Regions from separate parts of the Homo sapiens genome. Here regions 2 and 3 are each linked to region 1. The links come from fine-mapping of genetic effects on gene expression. A gene starts in region 1. Each other region holds a variant in brackets. All regions are shown on one strand. Distances are between the middles of the regions. Region 1 holds the start of PYCR2 (pyrroline-5-carboxylate reductase 2). Region 2 holds the start of LEFTY1 (left-right determination factor 1). Region 3 has its middle 25 kb from the start of LEFTY2.

Region 1 (5,221 bases):
GCTGAGGCGGGTGGATCACCTGAGGTCAGGAGTTGGAGACCAGCCTGGCCAACATGGTGAAACCCCATCTCTACTAAAAATACAAAAATTGGCCAGGCGTGGTGACACATGCCTGTAATCCCAGGTACTCGGAAGGCTGAGACAGGAGAATCGCTTGAACCCGGGAGATGGAGGTTGCAGTGAGCCGAGATCATGCCACTTCACTCCAGCCTGGGTAACAAAGACTCCGTCTCAAAAATAAATAAATAAATAAAAATAAGAAATAATAATAAATTGATGTTTTATGAGGACAGGAACTTGTCTGTTTTGTTCATAGCTATACTCCCAGAACCTGGCTCAGTAAGTTATCTATTATATAAATCAATAAACCTAACATTGACCTTTGAATGGTTAAATCAGTAAGGTACATACATATAATAAGTAGTCATTAAAACTGTCTTAAATAACTTTTCAGTGACATTGGAAAATGCTCATGTCTACTAGAGAAATTTCAAAACTACATGTACATCATTTATTTCCAATGATGGAGAAAGTAGATATGCATAGGACATGATAGTGTAAGGAAATACACCAAAAATGTTTGTAAGAAACTATCTTTGGGAAGTATGATGTGGATGATTTTATTTTTACTTTTATCTCCAAACTTTCTTCAATATGTCTGTATTACTTTTCGAATTTAAAAAATACAGAGGCCAGGTGCTGTGGCTCACGCCTGTAATCCCAGCACTTTGGGAGGCTGAGACAGGCAGATCACCTCAGGTCGGGAGTTCAAGATCAGCCTGACCAACATGGAGAAACCCTGTCTCTACTAAAAATACAAAAAATTAGCCGGGCGTGGTGGCGCATGCCTGTAATCCCAGCTACTCAGGAGGCTGAAGCAGGAGAATCGCTTGAACCCGGGAGGTGGAGGTTGCAGTGAGCCGAGATCGTGCCATTGCACTCCAGCCTGGGCAACAAGAGCGAAACTCTGTCTCAATAAATAAATAAATAAATAAATAAATAAAACATAGCATTATTTTGCTTAATAGTAAATATTATATTTGGTCCTCACTTTAAAGGGTGCACAAACTGAGGGCCTGGGGACTTGCTCAGGGAAGTTCACAGAAAGCAGCCCCTTGCCTGGGAGTGGGGGTGTGCATTACACGGAAAGGACTAGAAAAGCTAGCAGAGAGACCATGGGAACTAAGGGTCCTCAGCTCTTCTGAGTCCTCTAGGAACGCCACCTTCTTCCTCTCTACTTCTGTCATTTGTTCCCTGCGGCCCCTTATATTTACTACTGATAGAAAAGGAAACATCACATTGGTGGAGCTTTTAAAAGCAAGAGACAGGTCGGGCGCGGTGGCTCACGCTTATAATCCCAGCACTTTGGGAGGCCGAGGCGGGCGGATAACCTGATGTCAGGAGTTGAAGACCAGCCTGAACAACATGGTGAAACCCCGTCTCTACTAAAAATACAAAAATTATCCGGTCGTGGTAGCGGGCGCCTGTAATCCCAGCTACTGGGGAGGCTGAGGCAGGAGAATCGCTTGAACCCGGGAGGCGGAGATTGCAGTGAGCCGAGATCGTGCCACTGCACTCCATCCTGGGCAACAAGAGTGAAACTCCGTCTCAAAAAAAAAAAGGCAAGTGACAGCAAGGGGCTGGGGGGTGCGGGATCGCGGAAGAGTCGGAGACTCGAACTTGTCCTTCTTGTATCTAGTTTGGACAAATTCGCGAGAAACACTCAAGTTCAAGTGAATAAGCCGCGGCTGACCACCCTGGTGCCGCCTCGCCGCCACCTGGTCTGAACCTCGCCGCCACCTGGTCTGAACCTACGCCAGGAGGGCCTCGTTCATCCCCGCAAATCGGCAACCTGGAGAATTCCTGTGGGCCTTGAGGGGCATCTGATGGCCAGCGCCAGAAATAATATTAGCCAGGCCTGGGCCAGGCCTCAGCCCTGAGCCCGAGGTGGCTTAGGGACGGCGACCTCAGCCTTGGGGTGGGGGGGGGGGGTGGGGGCGGCCGGGCGTCCTGGGCCGGCGGGCGCCTGGAGCTCACGCCAAGCTGCCACAGGGGCTTCCGGGACTCCAGCCCGGAGTTCCGCCCTCCAGTCGCGAGCGGAGGAGGCGGGCACGCGGCCTGGCTCGGGCCGCGGATTGGCCTGCCCCGAGATCCTGGCCACTGATTGGTCGCCCGGACGGGGCGGGGCCACGTGGCCTAAGGCGCCATCAGCCGCCCGGGAGATATCCGCCGGGGGAGAATAGGGTTGCACCATCCCAGAAGCTGCTGTTAGCTCGCCGGTCCTCGGCACGCCGCCCGTTCGCCCCTGCGCTGTCCGCCCTTCCCCTAGCGTTACTTCCGGTCCCTCGCTGAGGGGGTTCGTGCGGCTCCCAGGAGGCGTGAACCGCGGACCATGAGCGTGGGCTTCATCGGGGCCGGCCAGCTGGCCTATGCTCTGGCGCGGGGCTTCACGGCCGCAGGCAAGCGCGTGGAGGCGGGAGGCGGCTTCGCGGGCGGTCCCGAGGCCCGAGGGGGCCTCCGTCCCACCAGCATGAGCGAATGAAAGGGGAGTTTGCGTCCGGTGGGGTAGATGAGACTCTGGTTGAGCAGCAAGTGCGTCTTCTGTCCTCGTAGAGGGTTGAGGGGGAGAGGGAGACTGGCACTGTTAGGACGGCTCTGGGTTTTAGAGCCAGGGAAAGCGTGGTAACGGGCTGGGCCGCGACCCCTAGTTGAAAAGCTCTGTCTTCTGCAGGCATCCTGTCGGCTCACAAGATAATAGCCAGCTCCCCAGAAATGAACCTGCCCACGGTGTCCGCGCTCAGGGTAGGTGGAGCCGGGCGGAGTGGGAAGCGGGTGGAGGCCCAGGAAAAGGATGACCTGAGATGAAGTGAGTCTGGCCGGCCCCTGCGCCCAAGTGCTGGTCTTTGGCCGGCGGTGACCTTTACTCCAGGAACGTGACAATCTTTCCACCTTCTCTTGGGCAGCTCAATGTGGTGGGAACACCCAGGGAGACATAACTGGGGGTCAGATCCAGACACTGGAGTGGTAGAGGATTAACTGAGGTGATTATGTGATGAAAGCACCTGGCACATAGTAGGTACCTAATAAATACTCATTTTTTAAATTTTTTTTCAGACAGGGTCTTACTCTGTCGCCCAAGCTGGAGTGCAGTGGCGCGATCTCAGCTCACTGTAACCTCCGCCTCCCACCTCAGCCTCCCACCTCAGCCTCCCGAGTAGCTGGAATTACAGGCATCCACCACGCGCAGCTAATTTTTGTATTTTTGGTAGAGAATACTGTTGGCCAGGCTGGTCTCGAACTCCTGGCCTCAAGTGATCTGCCCGCCTTGGCCTCCCAAAGTGCTGGGATTACAGGGGTGAGCCACTGCGCTCAGCCATTTTTCTTAATAGACGAGTTGTATGACCTTAAAGTACTCAGCCACTTTGAGGCTATTTCCTCATTTACAACAGTGGCCACTTTGCTGTTATTCTGAGTCGTGAATGAGCATATTGGGAAGAATCTGGTGAGTTAGTTGTTCTGTTCTCCAAAAACATATTCCAAGTCTTCACCCAAAACCTGTGCTCTGTGGGAGAGGATGGCTGATGAGGCAGGTGACAGGCAGTGTCTGTGCCTAGGGTGGGCTGATGTCCCTAGCACTGGAGGGTCCTGCTTCTCAGTTTGGAGTCATAGAGGGATGGATGGCTTCCAGCCTAGCCCTGGACCACATGGAGACTGTGCGGTCCCCACGAACAAGCGGCCAGGGTTAGGATAGGGCCTGACTCAGCTGTGCTTTTAACGACCAGGTATTAGCATTTCCCTTTGCCCTGCCACTTTCACCATAGGGCCTTCTTACCTGGCAGAGGAGTGCCTTAGATACCAGAAGATTGGCAGGGAAGAAGGGCAGCCACTTCCTGGTTACCATGGAGAAGCTTGTCATGCTCCAAGCCTGTGCTTACTTGTCCAGTAGCAACAATGGGAAACTGTATTATTTGGGGTAGGGGTAGAACCCTGAGGGCATAAAGCTAAGAATTCCAGGCTGCATCTGGCAGAATCGGTTTGGCAGGGGTTCAGCTGCTCCCTGGGAGGCCTTGGCATAGCCAGGCTGCTCCAGCACTGTGAGCTGGGAGTCTCCTCTTGCAGAAGATGGGTGTGAACCTGACACGCAGCAACAAGGAGACGGTGAAGCACAGCGACGTCCTGTTTCTGGCTGTGAAGCCACATATCATCCCCTTCATCCTGGATGAGATTGGGGCCGACGTGCAAGCCAGACACATCGTGGTCTCCTGTGCGGCTGGTGTCACCATCAGCTCTGTGGAGAAGGTGCCCATCTCAGCCCTGATGCCCCTTGTGTGAGGGGAGGGTTGACCCACGAATGGCAGCTAATGGGTGGGTGCTGGTGGGAGCCGTGCCCTGGCCACTCATTCGGCTCTCTCCCTCACCCTAGAAGCTGATGGCATTCCAGCCAGCCCCCAAAGTGATTCGCTGCATGACCAACACACCTGTGGTAGTGCAGGAAGGCGCTACAGTGTACGCCACGGGCACCCATGCCCTGGTGGAGGATGGGCAGCTCCTGGAGCAGCTCATGAGCAGCGTGGGCTTCTGCACTGAGGTGGAAGAGGACCTCATCGATGCCGTCACGGGGCTCAGTGGCAGCGGGCCTGCCTATGTGAGGCCCTCATTTGCTCGCTCAGCCTTCTAGGAACCCAGGCAGCAAGATGGGCTGGCAGGCAGGCTTGGACTGGGGGTGGCGCCCACCTCTTGGGCACAGCTGGCTGGTACAGGATGCTGACCCTTGGAGCTAGTTCTAGTCATCAGAAAGCAGACCTAAGGAAAGGCCCTTCAGTGCCTATGGCCTGGGGCTTAGTGAGTGTCTCCACAGGCATTCATGGCTCTGGACGCATTGGCTGATGGTGGGGTGAAGATGGGTTTGCCACGGCGCCTGGCAATCCAACTCGGGGCCCAGGCTTTGCTGGTCAGTATCTTTCCCCCGCATGTTCAGGACCAGGGTGTAGAATGGGGGTTCTTGTGCATCACTGAACTGAGGTGGGAGTTGGTTGGGAAGCTGGGGTAGCAGTTGGGCAGGAGCAGTGGGTATGGGAAGCCTGTTCCAACGCACACCAGCAACTTTCTCCTAATGTGCCCTTCCCCATAGGGAGCTGCCAAGATGCTGCTGGACTCGGAGCAGCATCCATGCCAGCTTAAGGACAATGTCTGCTCCCCTGGGGGAGCCACCATCCACGCC
Region 2 (5,221 bases), 35 kb after region 1:
TGAGCTTTATTCAAGGGACTTACGCACAGGGGGAAGTCCAGGAGCGGCAGGCTGGACAGGAGCAACCGCTGCCATTTGTGAAAAGTGTGCAGGTCATGTAGAAACCTTCACATTGCAACATTTGTTTGTTTGGTTGGCTTTTTTTGAGACAGGGTCTCACTCTGTCGCCCAGGCTGGAGCGCAGTGGTGCAATCTCGGCTCACTGCAACCTCTGCCTCACAGGTTCAAGCGCATCTCCTGTCTCAGCCTCCTGACTAGCTGGGACTACAGGCGTCTGCCACCAAGCCCAGGTAATTTTTGTATTTTTAGTAGAGTCGAGGTTTTGCCATGTTGGCCAGGCTAGGCTCCAATTCCTGACCTCAAGTGATCCGCCCACCTTGGCCTCCCAGAGTGCTGGGATTATAGGCGTGAGCCACCACGCCCAGCCCAAAACCACATTGCAACTTCCATCTAGCAACCTCTACTTAGCAGCCTCCACCTACCTCAAAACAATGGACCTCTGTTCCTTGTACAGCCTGTGTTCCAAGTAACAGGCCAGGGGCCTGACATTCTTCATAGTTAAACATAATTAAACATCCAGGTTGGCCGTTCCCACGGTCCATAGCCTGGAACACTGAACAAACATCACCAAGGGACAAAGGGTCCTTCCCAGGCCATGCTTGAGTTGTTGCTGTCTGGCAAGATGTGCCCACCACACAAAGGTGCTGGATGAACTGAAACGGGTCCCTATTCCTGGTTTGTTTCCCACCCTCCTCAGCCCAGACAGAGCCCCAGGGAAGGACCCCTGATGATGCCAGAGTCTGAGCTACTTTGGGAGAACAGGAAGTGCCCACACAGGGGGTGCCTGGAACCACCAAGGAGCCACATGGGCCCCCAGGCCTGGGGTCAGGGAGGTTGATGGTGTGGGTTGGGGCAGCCCAGGACACCTGGACTGGCCTTGGGGCATTTCCTGAGCACTCTCAGAAGTATCTGCCCCTGCCCAGGAAGGGGGCAAAAGCCACCCTGGAGACCCTAGATGCTGGGCTCTGACTTAGAAGCCACTCCACTCCTGGACTCTTAGCTTTGCTGACGTCAGAGCCCAGGCCTGAGTCCAGCTCATCCCCATCCATGGAGGCCCCAGGATGACCTCTGACCCCCATGTTTTCCCATGGCTCTCACTTGGCAACCTGGCCTCTGGTTGGGGTCACATCCTGGCCCACCAGGGGCAGGAGGGTGTTCGAGGGCAAAGGGCCCCACTCCTCATCCACCCTCCTACCTGGGCCCCCTCCCCCTCTCCCCAGTATGGCCAGACCACTGCCCTCCAGTGCCCTTAGCTCTGGGCCGAGGGCCAGGTCCAAATGTGCTCTGAGTCAGGGTAGGGATCACTCATTCCCTTGCCCCGCTCTCCTCCCTTAGATAGAAGATCTGGTTCTGGGGCCACTTTACCATCTCAAGCCCAATCTGGGCAGACCCAGGTGGGGATGGTTGGGGAAGCCAGGCTCCGTCTTCTGCATGACAAAGGGTGGGGCTGCCCTCCCTCCTGGCAACACTTCAGACCATTGTAAACAGTCTCCCAATCCACATTTGTTTTATTTTTCGTTGTCAGATCTAGCAAATAAAAATATAGGACTCTGGTGAAATTTGAATGTCAGGTAGACAATGAATAATTTTTTTGGTATAATTATGTCCCAAATAGTGCCTTGTATTTTATCTGGTAGCCCTACCCCTGGCTGATCACCCAAATGTTTTATTTCCCCAGCAAAACTCTTCAACCAGCTTACAAATCCACATTCAGGATAGGGGTCCTCTGTCTTGGGGGATTGTCCCCCTGCCCCAGCCTAGACCTGATCACCTGGATTGAGACCACCTGGCTCCCTTTAGGGCATAGATCAAAACTAGGCTGTAAATAATTTGAGTGTGCCAAGAACTTTGTGAATTGCAAGACCTGACTTTATATGGACATTGATCATTAACTTTGTGAGCTTCGGGAAGTTGACACCTCTGAGCCTCGGTTTTTTTTCAGCTCAAAAATTGGGAGAGGTTGCCGTGAGCCGAGACTGCGCCATTGTACTCCAGCCTGGGCAACAAGAATGAAACTCTGTCTCAAAAGAAAAAAAAATTGGGGGAGAAGGTAGCCTGGATATTCCTTTCAACTCTAAACTCTAATTCTGTGAACAGCAGGGATGAGGGAGAGGATGAGGCTCCTTCCTTATTGGACAAAACCCCGTTGGAACTAAATGCTCCTAGGCTCCCTTGCCTAGGAAGGTCCCCCCAGAACAGTGGGAAATCTGGTTTCACAACTGGGGACCACCAGCTCAGGATCTCATGAGGCCCCGGGACCCTCTGAGCACGGGCCCGGATGCTCATCCCTGCAGACTGGATTGGCCCTTAGAGCCCTGGCGTTGCCTGAGCCATTCTGGTTCCTGTCAGTTGTTTGGTTGCAGCAAGGAACAAGACTCTAGGTCCACTTACCAGCAGCTGGGGGAACTGAGCCTCTTGCAGAGAACGAGAGCCCCACCTCTACTCTAGGAAATGAGCTTTTTAATTTAACTGGTCAGGCCTCAACCCACATTAGGGGTTCATGACCATTGTATAGACAGCTGTAGCCAGCTGTTCACAGCCCAGACAGACTTGCCCTATCTAGACAGCCCCCTCCTCCCAGCTCAGGGACTCGTCTGGCTGTGAGCTTCCAGGAGGTCTCAGGGGTGTGACCTCCCTCCCTCCTTCCCTCCCCACTCCCTACCTCCTCCCTCCACCCCAGGCTATAAAGCTGCCCAGGCTTGGCTCTCAGCACATCCAGCTGCCTGAGACCCTCCTGCAGCCTTCTCAAGGGACAGCCCCACTCTGCCTCTTGCTCCTCCA[G/A]GGCAGCACCATGCAGCCCCTGTGGCTCTGCTGGGCACTCTGGGTGTTGCCCCTGGCCAGCCCCGGGGCCGCCCTGACCGGGGAGCAGCTCCTGGGCAGCCTGCTGCGGCAGCTGCAGCTCAAAGAGGTGCCCACCCTGGACAGGGCCGACATGGAGGAGCTGGTCATCCCCACCCACGTGAGGGCCCAGTACGTGGCCCTGCTGCAGCGCAGCCACGGGGACCGCTCCCGCGGAAAGAGGTTCAGCCAGAGCTTCCGAGGTGAGGCCCTCCCTCCCTGCTGCCCCTGGTCCCATGGGGCAGGTCAGATGTGCCCACTCCGGTGGTGTCAAAGGGCTCCTGGCCTTGCAGAGGTCTGTGGGAGGCTGAGTGAGGGCCACGGTCTAAGGGGCAGTGAGGTGGGGCCGGGCCTGTGAGGATGGCGGGGCCTCAGCATGCAGCGGTGCATGCAGTCAGGACTCCGGGGGTCTGTTTTCGTACTGCCACTCTGGTCTGAGTTCTACTTGGAGCATATTGCTTTAAAATCATCTCACAACCATTTGCTCACATGGAACTGGGGTATAACTATGTCTTGCCCATCTTCCAGCATTGTGAACATCAAAATGAGTCATTGTAAATAGAAGCGTGTTTGGGTAACTGAAAAATACTGCACTTGAGTAGACAACCTGGGTTATACCTGGCTGTCAGGGGTGCAGCGGGCCTGAATCCTCCTGCAGCCGGCCTGAATCCTCCTGCAGCCTCTCGCCTCCCTAGCTCCTCAGTGCCCAGAGCTAGACCCAATGCCAGGCACCTGGGTGAGGATTCTGCTCCCAGCATCTCAGCTGAGGCAAACTTGCTAGCCAGGGTCCCACAGGCGCCCCTGCCTGCTGGATGGAAATTGTTACTAAACAAGGCCCAGATCCAAGGAAGATTTGTAAACTGGGTTTGCCCCAGAAATAGAACAGGGCCGGTGTCTCCTGGCCTGGCTGCCAGCTCAGTGGCCCTGCCATCCTCAGAGCTCCCCTGGAGTCGGGGGAGGCCCTGCTGACCCTGCTCTTGTCCCCAGAGGTGGCCGGCAGGTTCCTGGCGTTGGAGGCCAGCACACACCTGCTGGTGTTCGGCATGGAGCAGCGGCTGCCGCCCAACAGCGAGCTGGTGCAGGCCGTGCTGCGGCTCTTCCAGGAGCCGGTCCCCAAGGCCGCGCTGCACAGGCACGGGCGGCTGTCCCCGCGCAGCGCCCGGGCCCGGGTGACCGTCGAGTGGCTGCGCGTCCGCGACGACGGCTCCAACCGCACCTCCCTCATCGACTCCAGGTGGGGGTCGCGGGGGCGCGCAGGGTAGGGGGAGGGCGCTGCTAGGCCCGGCTTGGGGGCGGGGACGCGGGGGGGCGGTGCGGGGTCCTCGGGGCCCGTCCCAGTCCCCGCCCTCAAGCGGCGCTGGGTCTCTGTGTCATGTCTCAGGCTGGTGTCCGTCCACGAGAGCGGCTGGAAGGCCTTCGACGTGACCGAGGCCGTGAACTTCTGGCAGCAGCTGAGCCGGCCCCGGCAGCCGCTGCTGCTACAGGTGTCGGTGCAGAGGGAGCATCTGGGCCCGCTGGCGTCCGGCGCCCACAAGCTGGTCCGCTTTGCCTCGCAGGGGGCGCCAGCCGGGCTTGGGGAGCCCCAGCTGGAGCTGCACACCCTGGACCTTGGGGACTATGGGTAGGTGCTGAGGGTCAAACTGGTAAGCCGGAATAAAGAGACAGGCAATTACATTTATTTTGAAATGGACAACTTTTCAGAGTGCTGTGGGAATGAATGAGACAATGTATACAATTCTTCCTCTGACTCTTAGGAGATCCTCAGTAAATATCGGTTATTAATTTTCAAGTTATTTCTAGCTGTCCATCCTATATCACAAACATCCAGCTTTTTGAAGTTGAGAGGTGGATCATAAATCTCCATCCCAGACGCCCTCTGACCTCAGCCCTCCCAGCTGACCGCTGACCCTGCTCTCTTTGCCCACACAGAGCTCAGGGCGACTGTGACCCTGAAGCACCAATGACCGAGGGCACCCGCTGCTGCCGCCAGGAGATGTACATTGACCTGCAGGGGATGAAGTGGGCCGAGAACTGGGTGCTGGAGCCCCCGGGCTTCCTGGCTTATGAGTGTGTGGGCACCTGCCGGCAGCCCCCGGAGGCCCTGGCCTTCAAGTGGCCGTTTCTGGGGCCTCGACAGTGCATCGCCTCGGAGACTGACTCGCTGCCCATGATCGTCAGCATCAAGGAGGGAGGCAGGACCAGGCCCCAGGTGGTCAGCCTGCCCAACATGAGGGTGCAGAAGTGCAGCTGTGCCTCGGATGGTGCGCTCGTGCCAAGGAGGCTCCAGCCATAGGCGCCTAGTGTAGCCATCGAGGGACTTGAC
Region 3 (5,221 bases), 42 kb before region 1:
CAGTGGAATGTGGGCCTCATGGCACAGGCCCATCGGGGTCACTGCTGTGTTCAGGGCTCAGTAAGGATGCCTCGGTGCGCTTGGATGTGGCGCTGGCCGGCTGGCTGGGGGTGCCACCTGGCGTGATTTGTTGTCACTTGCTCACTTGTCCTAGATGCTGTTTATAAAAGTACTAATAGAACCAGGCACGGTGGTTTATGCCTGTAATCCCAGCATTTTGGAAGCCCAAGGTAGGCGAATCCCTTGAGCCCAGGTGTTTGAGACCAGCTTGGGCAGCAGGGCAAAACCCTGTCTCTACTAAAAAAAAAAAAAAAAAAAAAAAAAAAAAAATTAGCCAGGCATGGTGGTGCGTGTGTAGTCCCAGCTACTTAGGAGGCTGAGTGGGAGGATCACTTGAGCCTGGGGAGGTTGAGGCCGCAGTGAGCTATAATCGCGTCACTGCGCTCCAGCCTGGGTAACAGAGTGAGACCCCGTCTCAAAAATAAATAAATAAATGATACTAATAGTAGAAGGTGATGTATGGCCTTGGAAAAGGCTGAGTTCGACGGCTAGGAAGCCTAGTTTTCCCCTCTCTTCCTCTTCCTTGCACTATACCCTGCAGATCATGGAGCTGGACTGAAGGTCTCAGTTTCTTCTTACGTCACATCAAGGAGGGTGATGCTGACAGCAGGCATCCTCTCGTGAGTTGCCAGCAGTTTTGTGAAGGTGTGGGGAGAGGCCAGTCACGGTGACTCACACCTGTAATCCCAGCACTTTGGGAGGCCGAGGTGGGTGGATCATCTAAGGTCAGGAGTTCAAGACCAGCCTGGCCAACATGGTGAAACCCCGTCTCTACTAAAAATACAAAAATTAGCTGGGCATGGTGGCGAGTGCCTGTAACCCCAGCTACTGGAGAGGCTGAGGCAAGAGAATCACTGAACCCAGGAGGCGGAGGTTGCAGTGAGCCGAGATCGCACCATTGCACTCCAGCCTGGGCGACAAAGCAAGACTGTCTCAGAAAAAAAAAAAAAAAAAAAAAAGAAGAAGATGTAGGGAGAGAGGGAAACGAAGAATGTGGGGGGGGAAATGAAGAGCTTAAAAAATAAAACTACAAAATCTTTTAGCCAAAGGGGGAAGAAAACAAGGGCAACATAAATAATTTGAAATTTTTCTCCAGAGAAATAGCAAAAGTTCCACTCATCTCCATTTAGAAGTTTGTAATGGGGAGAAACATATTCCATAAATCAAAAAGAGTAATTTATTTTCAAATTATATATGTCTGTAGAAACACATAAAATTCATAGAGAAAGATGAAGAGATCATAAGAAAAAAAAGCCCTTAATTTTTTTTTTTTTTTTTGAGACGGAGTCTCAACTCTGTTGCCCAGGCTGGAGTGCAGTGGTGTGATCTTGGCTCACTGCAACCTCTGCCTCCAGGGTTCAAGCAATTCTCATGGCTCAGCCTCCCAAGAAACTGTGACTACAGTTGCGCGCCACCATGCCTGGCTATTTTTTTTTTGTATTTTTAGTAGAGACAGGGTTTCACTCTGTTGGCCAGGCTGGTCTTGAACTCCTGGCCTCAGGTGATCTGTCCATCTTGGCCTCTCAAAGTGCTGGGATTATAGACATGAGCCACCGCGCCTGGCCCCTTACTTAATTTAGAGTAAAGGCAAAGACCTAAGTGATATTTTTATGTGTTGCAAATGTCTCCTCCTACTCTCAGCTTTCCATTTCCTTAATGGTGTCTTAAAAATTGTGTTATTGAATATAACATACAAACAGTATGAACAATGAATAAATCAGAATGTACAACGTGAATTTTTTTTTTTACAAATGAACTCTGTAACCAGCATCCAGATCAAGAAACAGAACATTATAAGAACTCCAAAGCCCTGGAGACCCCTTCTGGTCACTACCTTCCAAGGGTACCATTATCCTGACTTGTATAAATGGAATCTGAGAGAAGGCAAGTTTTCTTTTACATGTATGATGTATGTGGGATTCCCTATACGGTTTCATTCATTCATGAGTAGTGGTCATTCATTCATGTTCGTTGCTTTATAGTATTCTAGTGTGCAGCAATTCATCCACTCTACTATTGATGGATATTTGGATAATTCCCAGTTTGGGGGTATTATTAATGGTGCTGCTATGTGAAGGGGTGGCCTTCCCCTCCACACCTGTGGGTATTTCTAGTCAGGTGGGATGAGAGACTGAGAAAAGAAATAAGACACAGAGACAAAGTATAGAGAAACAACCGTGGGCCCAGGGGACTGGCACTCAGCATACCAAGGACCTGCACCGGCACCAGTCTCTGAGTTCCCTCAGTTTTTATTGATTATTATTTTTATTATTTTAGTAAAAAGGAATGTAGTAGGAGAGCAGGGTGATAATAAGGAGAAGGTCAGCAACAAACATGTGAGCAATAGAATCTA[T/C]GTCATAATGAAGTTCAAGGGAAGGTACTATGACTGGACGTGCACGTAAGTCAGATTTATGTTTCTCTCCACCAAAACATCTCAGCAGAGTAAAGAATAACAAGGCAGCATTGCTGTAAACATGTCTTGCCTCCCACCATAGGGCGGTTTTTCTCCTATCTCAGAATTGAACAAATGTACAGTCGGGTTTTATACTGAGACATTCAGTTCCCAGGGGCAGGCAGGAGACAGTGGCCTTCCTCTATCTCAACTGCAAGAGGCTTTCCTCTTTTACTAATCCACCTCAGCATAGACCCTTTATGGGTGTCGGGCTGGGGGATGGTAAGGTCTTTCTCATCCCACAAGGCCATATTTCAGACTATCACATGGGGAGAAACCTTGGACAATACCCAGCTTTCCAGGGCAGAGGTCCCTGCGGCTTTCCGCAGTGCATTGTGCCCCTGGTTTATTGAGACTAGAGAATGGCGATGACTTTTACCAAGTATACTGCTTGTAAACATGTTGTTAACAAGGCACGTCCTGCACAGCCCTAGATCCCTTAAACTTTGATTTCGTACAACACATGTTTTTGTGAGCTCCAGGTTGGGTCAAAGTGGCTGGGGCAAAGCTACAAATTAACAACATCTCAGCAAAGCAACTGTTTAAAGTACAGGTCTTTTTCAAAATGGAGTCTCTTATGTCTTTCCTTTCTACATAGACACAGTAACAGTCTGATCTCTCTTTCTTTTCCCTACACTATGGAACATTCTCTCTCTCTCTCTCTCTCTCTCTCTCTCTCTCTCTCTCTCTGTAGCAATTTTACTGAACTGGTGCTGCTCCTTTTGTAGGAGGACTAACCCATAGGCACTGTGCCCAGAGTCAGCCTGAACATTCTAGAACTTGCTTTTGATCAACACCTTGTATTAGGGACAGAACTAAAGGGACAGAACTAATAGGATGTATGTATATATGAAAGGAAGTTTATTAAGGAGAATTGACTCACAAGATCACAAGGTAAAGTCCAACGATAGACTCTCTGCAAGCTCAGGAGCAAGGAAGCCAGTAGTGGCTTAGTCTGAGTCTCAAAACCTCAAAAGTCGGGAAGCTGACAGTGCAGCCTTCAGTCTGTGGCCAAAGGCCCGAGAGCCCCTGGCAAACCACCAGTGTAAGTCCAAGAGTCCAAAAACCAAAGAACTTGGAGTCTGATGTTCCAGGGCAGGAAGCATCGAGCACGGGAGAAAGATGAAGGCCTGAAGACTCAGCAACTCTGCCCTTCCATCTCCTGCCTGCTATTTCTAGCCATGCTGCCTCTCCCAGTCCACTGCCTCAAATGTTAATCTCCTCTGCTACCACTGTCACAAAAAAACACCCAGAAACAATACTTTGCATCCTTCAATCCAATCAGGTTGACACTTTTTTTTTTTTTGAGACAGAGTCATGCTCTGTCGCCCAGGCTGGGGTGCAGTGGCGCAATCTTGGCTCACTGCAACCTTTGCCTCCCTGGTTCAAGCAATTCTCCTGCCTCAGTCTCCTGAGTAGCTGGGACTACAGGTGCGCGCCATCATGCCTGGCTAATTTTTGTATTTTTAGTAGAGACGGGGTTTGCCATGTTGACCAGGCTGGTCTTGAACTTTTGGCCTCAAGTGATCTGCCAGCCTCAGCCTCCTCCCAAAGTGCTGGGATTACAGGTGTGAGCCACCACGCCCGGCCACAATCAAGTTGACACTTAATATTAACCATCACACACATGAACATATTTCTGTTGATTATATACCTATGCTGGTCACAGGATGTGTAAATATTCAGCTTTAGGAGATATTGGGAGAAATAGCAACACTTGATATACATATATATACACATATATATATACATATATATACACACATATATATACATATATATACATATATATACACACATATATACATATATATACATATATACATATATACATATATATACATATATACACGCATATATATACATATATATACATATATATATACACATATATATGTGTGTATATATATACATATATATATACACATATATATGTGTGTGTGTATATATATATATATATATATATATATATATATATAAAGTTGTTGGTTTTCACATTTTTATTGGGAGCCATGCGAGGGGCCTCTTCTGTCAGTGGAGGTGCTCACACTTTCTTCAGCCACTCCAAGCTGGGGCCCTGGGGGCCCTGGGGGTGGCTGCACATGTCCGCATGTTCCCATCATCGTGGACGGGCACTGGATAGTTGTAGGGTGTGGCCTCATTGATCATGATGGAATACTTGGTGTAGGGGCTGAGTGGGGGCAGAATTACAGTGAGGCTCCCGATGACGAAGGAGACCACCAGCACTGGCTCCTTGGCCCAGGAGTTCTTGAGGAAGGCGCCAAGTCTCACAACCATCTTGGTCTCGGCTTTATATATATATATATATATATATTTATTACAGTGGGAGTGTGTGAGTTTGTGTGTGATTAGAGATTTCATCTCACTATGTTGCCCAAGCTGGTCTTGAAGGGCTCAAGCAATCCTCCCGCCTCAGCCTCCCAAAGCACTGAGAATAGAGGCATGAGCCACCGTGCCCGGCCACATCACGTATTAACTTGCATTTCCCTGATGACTAATGAAGCCAAGCATTTTTTCCTGTTGATTGGCCACGTGGATATCCTCTTCTACCATGTGCCTATTCTAGTCTTTTGCCCATTTTGTGAGGTTTTTTTTTTGCCATTTTTTTCATTGAATTGTCTGACTGTCCTTTTCTTATTGACTTTTTTTCTTTTTTTTTTTGAGATGGAGTCTCGCTCTGTTGCAGTA

Evidence for each region. PIP is the estimated chance that this variant, and not a neighbour inherited with it, causes the effect.
Region 2: its variant is fine-mapped to the expression of PYCR2 in vagina (GTEx, PIP above 0.99).
Region 3: its variant is fine-mapped to the expression of PYCR2 in adrenal gland (GTEx, PIP above 0.99). The same link has a PIP of 0.9 or more in ovary.

What each region holds. Positions count from the first base shown.
Region 1 is chr1:225,921,282-225,926,502 of GRCh38, reverse strand. PYCR2 (pyrroline-5-carboxylate reductase 2) reads left to right here and starts at 2,253. Exons shown (of 7, transcript NM_013328.4): 1 at 2,253-2,459; 2 at 2,732-2,802; 3 at 4,120-4,299; 4 at 4,424-4,645; 5 at 4,859-4,951; 6 at 5,132-5,221. The coding sequence starts at 2,393. It overlaps MIR6741 (microRNA 6741), which reads left to right and starts at 4,361; the gene lies at 4,361-4,423. RefSeq lists silencers at 1,907-1,986, 2,127-2,216, 2,527-2,656 and an enhancer at 1,707-2,356.
Region 2 is chr1:225,886,697-225,891,917 of GRCh38, reverse strand. LEFTY1 (left-right determination factor 1) reads left to right here and starts at 2,772. Exons shown (of 4, transcript NM_020997.4): 1 at 2,772-3,101; 2 at 3,886-4,132; 3 at 4,280-4,519; 4 at 4,828-5,221. The coding sequence starts at 2,852. The coding sequence ends at 5,191. RefSeq lists enhancers at 1-467, 468-1,185, 1,186-1,903, 4,057-4,773 and a silencer at 435-729. The variant G/A (reference allele first, on the strand shown) is at 2,842.
Region 3 is chr1:225,963,770-225,968,990 of GRCh38, reverse strand. It overlaps the pseudogene NDUFA3P3. Among named protein-coding and RNA genes, the nearest start is that of LEFTY2, 25 kb to the right of the region's middle. The variant T/C (reference allele first, on the strand shown) is at 2,414.